Linked DNA regions of Homo sapiens: region 2 is linked to region 1. A link means that fine-mapping ties the variant in region 1 to the expression of a gene that starts in the linked region. Tissue or cell type: whole blood. Region 1 holds a variant in brackets; the other region holds the start of a gene. All regions are shown on one strand. Distances are from middle to middle.

Region 1 (2,754 bases):
ATTTTAATAGATAATTTTGAAGATTTTAAGAAAAAATAATTTTTAAAACTTACAAGAGAAGTAACTTTAAGCTTTGATCTTTTACAATTTACTTTAATTTACATTTTTATTAAAATAGGTGCAATTTTGTGCTGTTTTGGTTATCTCTGCTGCATAACAAACCCCAAAACTTAGTGCTTTAAAATCAATTGGCCAGGCATGGTGGCTCACTCCTATAATCCCAGCACTTTGGGAGGCCGAGGCAGGAGGATCACTTGAGGCCAAGAGTTCAAGACCAGCCTGGGCAACATAGAGAGACCCCCATCTCCACACAAAAGAAGCTTTTAATTAAAAACAATTATTTTTAATAAAAACAAAATATTTTTAGCTCTCAGGGTTACCTGGACTTAGTGGTCGCTTATGGGGACAGGTCTCTCATGTAGTCGCAGTCAAATGGCAGCAGGACCTAGAGCAAGCTTGTCCAACCTGCAGCCTATGGGCTGCATGAGACCCTGGATGGCTTTGAATGCAGGCCAACACAAATTCGTAAACTTTCTTTTTTTTTTTTTTTTTTTTTTTTTTGAGATGGAGCTTCGCTCTTGTTGCCCAGGCTGGAATGCAATGGCGTGATCTCGGCTTGCTGCAACCTCTGCCTCCCAGGTTCAAGTGATTCTCCTGTCTAAGCCTCCCAAGTAGCTGGGATTACAGGCACCCACCACCATGCCCAGCTAATTTTTGTATTTGTAGTAGAGACTGGGTTTCACCATGTTGGCCAGGTTGGTCTTGAACTCCTGACCTCAGGTGATCCACCCGCCTCAGCCTCCCACAGTGCTGGAGTTACAGGCATGAGCCACCATGCCCAGCCCATAAACTTTCTAAAAAATTATGAGTATTTTTTGTGTGCGTGATTTTTGTTTTTAGCTCATCAGCTATTGTTAGTGTATTTTATGTGTGGCCCAAGACAGTCCTTCTTCTTCCAATGTGGCCACAGAAGCCAAAAGATTGGACACCCTTGGTCTAGAGTCAAACGTTGGCTCAACTGGACTGCACATCCAAGATGGCAGCATCTTCTTTCACCTATCTTCTTTCATCCTCAGCTGGGATGGCTGGAACAAGTGGAATCTGGCTGAATCTATTGCTTTCTCCATGTGGCCTTTCCATGTGGCTATCTTGGCTTCCTTATAGTATGATGGCCTCAGAGGAATCAAATTTCTAAGATGATAGCTGACTTACCCCAGAGCAAGCTTTCTAACAGACCCAGCTGAAAGGCAAAAGGCTTCCCATGGCCTATCCTCAGAAGTCATGCAGCCTCACCATCACTGCTTTCTGTTGGTCAAAAGCGAGTCACGGAGACAACCCAGAGTTAAGAGAGGGGAATACACAAGGTTGGGCATACTAGGGGTGTGAACACGGGGGTGCTATCTTGGAAGACTAGCTGCCACAATGTCTGCCCTCTGCCTCCCATGAATCACATACCTCCCACGTGCAAAATACAGTCGCCTTCCAAGACCATTAAGGTATCAGCCATGAAGCCTTTAGGTTCAGGCTCCAAATCCAGGACCTCAACCTCTAACTCAGGTCCAGGTGCAAATAAGGCCCCTCAGGTGTGGTTCTTTAGAGAGGGTT[T/C]GTTTTGCCCTGAAGATCTGTGAGCTAAAGAGACAAGTTGTCTTCCCCCATGGCCAACGTACAGCAACAAAGTGGACACAGGATAATGGCAACAGACACTCTCATTCAAAAAGGAGAAGAAACTAGCACAGTGCAATTCCGAAAGCAAGCCAGGCACATGTCACCAGTGTCTTCATTAGACCTGGTCCTGCTCTCAGGGAGGGGCTGTCCCTAGCTGTTGGCTTCACACTCAATTATCCATCCTTCTCCATAAGAAATGACCAGGGCAGCTGGGCACAGTGGCTCACGCCTGTAATCCCAGCACTTTGGGAGGCCGAGGTGGGTGGATCACATGAGGTTGGGAGTTCGAGACCAGCCTGGCCAACATGGTGAAACCCCATCTCTACTAAAAATACAAAAATTAGCCAGGTGTGGTTGCATACATATGTAATCCCAGCTACTCAGGAGGCTGAGGCAAGAGAATCACTTGAATCCGGGGGATGGAGGTTGCAGTGAGCCAAAATTGTGCCACTGCACTCCAGCCTGGGCAACAGAGTGAGACTCCATCTCAAAAAAAAAAAGAAAGAAAGAAACTAATGACCAGGGTCTGCTGCATTTTGAACTGTCTCCGTCCCTTCCCACCCAACTTGATACAATTCTTTCAAAAACTTGTGGGTTTCTTAAATATCAAATGATAATTTACTACTTAAGACAATAGCCATACCCCCATTTCTCCCCTAGTAGGCCTTCTTCTACTTTAAGCCACTTGTGAGGTTGCTGTGGGATTCTTAGAAGTCCTATTGTCTAGCAGAGAGGATCTAAGATGTATACTCTGAAGATTCTTTACTGGGCGTGGCAGTGTGTGCTTGTGGTCCCAGCTGCTCAAGAGGGCTCTTTGTACCTAAGAGTTGGAGGCCAGCCTGGACAACATAGCAAGACCCTGTCTCAAGGGGGAAAAAAATATTCTCGGAAGCCCTTTTGTCTATCCAAAAGGTCTACAAAAATAATGCCCTTAAATTTTTCTGAGGTTTTAATAAAGGGTTTTACAGCCACATTCTTGATTTCACATTTACCCAAGGCCACAATTTACGGGCAGTGCCCTAAATTTTATCTTTGCTCTAAGACCATTTCTTATTTTGAAAGCCTTTTACTGGCTGGAACAACAGTCCT
Region 2 (2,754 bases), 46 kb after region 1:
ACTAAAAAAAAGGAGAGAGAAAAATGAAAAAAAAAAAAAGAGCGTCAGAGAGGAAACGGGAGGGTCTCAGTGGGGAATTCGGCTTCCTGTCGTCTGGGTTTTGATTTTGAGTTGTACTAGAGGAGTCTTTATGTCTGGAATGCTGAGAAAACCAGCCCAGGCCAGGCGGGCTGTGAGGGCAGGATTTAGAGGCGTTTAGTTTCTTAAACTCTATAGTCTGGATTCCGGTGTCAGGGGCCTGAGCCATTTTCCTCCTCCCCTACCCGTCAGCTCCCACTCCCTCCAAACTTCCTAAGAAAGTTCTGAGTCCTGCAGAAAGACAGGCTTCTCCATCTTCCACACCCGCGCAGATTTCTCTTTCCTCACACATGCACGCCCAGGCCCAGCGCCCCAGCCCCTCACCCCCAGGATAACTGTTAGAGTCTCTCACACGGGGCTGTCATCATTAACACCCCGAGATTCCCGAGGGCTAGGACACTGAGGCCGGTGTCCACATCTGCCAAATTCCTCCCATAGCTGCGTGCGAACTGAGTATGTTCCTAAGACGCCTAAGGAGTTCAGCACGGGGCTCGGGGTCCACTGCGACACTGCGCGGACAGCGGCCGCTCGGCTGGGCCTCAGGTGGGGAGGGCTCGCGGTCCTGCCCTGAGCCCGGGCTCCGCAGCTCGGCGCCTGCACCGCTCCCCTCGCCGAGCCCGCGGCGGAGTCTGCCGGCCGCACGCAGCAGGTCTGGGGCTCACCTTGAATCGGGACCTGCGGGGACCGCCGTGCGGCTTCCCGCTGGGTGAGCGCCGCAGCCCTGAGTGGCGGGGCAGTCATTCCCCTTTTCCAGATGGGAAAGCCAAATCTTGAGCCCAGCGCCAGCACCGTGTTCTCAGGTGCTGGGACTTCCAACCCGCGATCTCCTCACTGTAGTATTTCTGGGAACCTTCCCTGGGATTCCCCTCGGGGCGTAGAGGGAAGGAACGTCTGGGGACAAGCGTCCAGGAAGGGTCTGGATTCTTTGTCCTCCGCCGGGAGCAGGCCCCACCGCAGGCGCCAGTGTGTGGGGCGCCCCGGAGACGGTGGCGGGGACCGAGCCCCTGCCCCGCGGAGAAGCAGAGGGCGCGGGACGCCGTTCCCCAGCGCTGCCGCCGCCGCGCTCGCCAGGGCCTGGAGTGGCGCGGAGGGCGGCGGGCTCAGACCAAAGTCCACCAGGGGGCAAAGTCCGCGGGCCCCAAGCCCCCACCACGGGGTCGCGGGGGTTTGCTCCGCCTCGTGAGCTTGGGATTCTGGTTAAAAAGGCGGCTGGGCGGAGCTGCGGGCCTCCGACGGCGGGAGGACAGCGCTGCGAGGAGGCGCCCGGGACAGTCATGGAGCGCCGCCTGGGAGTGAGGGCCTGGGTGAAGGAGAACCGGGGCTCCTTCCAGCCCCCGGTCTGCAACAAGCTCATGTGAGTCCAGCACCCCCATGGCCGCCCCCTGCCCTCGCCTCCTCCCCCTCCTCCATCTGCGCCCTCACCTTCCAGCTCCGAGTTCCTGGACCCAGAAGCTTGCAGAAGGACCGCTTTAATCTCTTGGTTCTTGGGGGAAGATGGAGACAGGCTGTTCCGGTTCCACCACATCGGTCTGTTCCTCTTTCTTGTGACTGTGGCCTTGACTTCTGAAGAAGGCTGAGCTGGTTCTCAGGCTGTAGGAGATGACATGACAGGGTGCACCTCTCCTTCCAGGGCTGAGAAACAATTCTCCAACCCCAAGTGACACTGTGCATTTTGGGAAAACTCAAAAGTGTGGGGAGGGTGGTTTTCAAGGCAGAAATGCACTAGAATGTAGGCCTGGGGGCAGCCAAATCATACACCCCAACCCTGTCCCAGAAGCCACAGGCAAAGGGGGAGGCAGAGAATCCGCTCCTTTGGGAAGATCTTGATGTCTTGCTTTTTTCAGGGCCCCTCTATGCAGGTGTGCACGAACACACACACACACACACCACACCAGACCCTCCCTAGGCCACCTCTGCCAGTAGCCTCTGCCTGCAGCACCCAACAGGGTTGGCCATCCAGCTGCCATCTTTCTCAGGCAGACCTCTCAGGCCCTCCCCTGTGGTATGGTCACCTCCCTCATCCCCCCAGTTCCATGGCGGGGCCCCACATGCCAGCTAGATCAAGGTTTACATTCCCCATTTTTGCTGTGTCCACAGGACATGGTCAGTAGGGTGGCACCTCAAGGCAAACAGCAGGCCCAGGACTATGCCAAGTGTTTTTACATCATCTCATCTCATTCTCACAGTAGCACCGTGAGGGGGGATTTTCATAAGTAACTTTTCTAGTGTCACGGAGCGCCTGTGCGATAGGCTCCAGACTCAACCCACGGAGCAGTTCGACTCCAGAGTCCACGCACACTCTTGGTTACCATGCAATACCACATGGCCAACAGTCAATATCTCCCCAAAGATCTCTTCTATCACTGTTGTTGCCCACCCCCAATTAAAGATGTAGCATCATCTTTGCCTCCTTCCAACACTTCATCCCCATCTGCAGTCGCTCCTTCTCAGTCCTCCCTTCGCTCCCCCTGAGGTCTCGCGTCCATCTGCCCGGGCCTCTCCCTAGCATTTGGTGGTTTGCTGGCATCATTGGTATTCTTGCTTCTGCTGTACCACGCCCACCTCCACCTTCGTCTTCACAAGGCAGTCTCCTTGTGTGTGTGTCTGTGTCCAAATTTCCCTCTTTTAAAAGAACACCAGACATATTGGATCAGGGGCTCACCCTACTCCAGGATG

Evidence for each region. PIP is the estimated chance that this variant, and not a neighbour inherited with it, causes the effect.
Region 2: it holds the start of HAAO, and the variant in region 1 is fine-mapped to the expression of HAAO in whole blood (GTEx, PIP above 0.99).

The regions. Positions count from the first base shown.
Region 1 is chr2:42,836,956-42,839,709 of GRCh38, reverse strand. No RefSeq gene overlaps it. Among named protein-coding and RNA genes, the nearest start is that of TRI-TAT2-1, 28 kb to the right of the region's middle. The variant T/C (reference allele first, on the strand shown) is at 1,606.
Region 2 is chr2:42,791,135-42,793,888 of GRCh38, reverse strand. It overlaps HAAO (3-hydroxyanthranilate 3,4-dioxygenase), which reads left to right and starts at 1,306. Exons shown (of 10, transcript NM_012205.3): 1 at 1,306-1,432. The coding sequence starts at 1,353. RefSeq lists silencers at 570-659, 740-839, 1,020-1,459.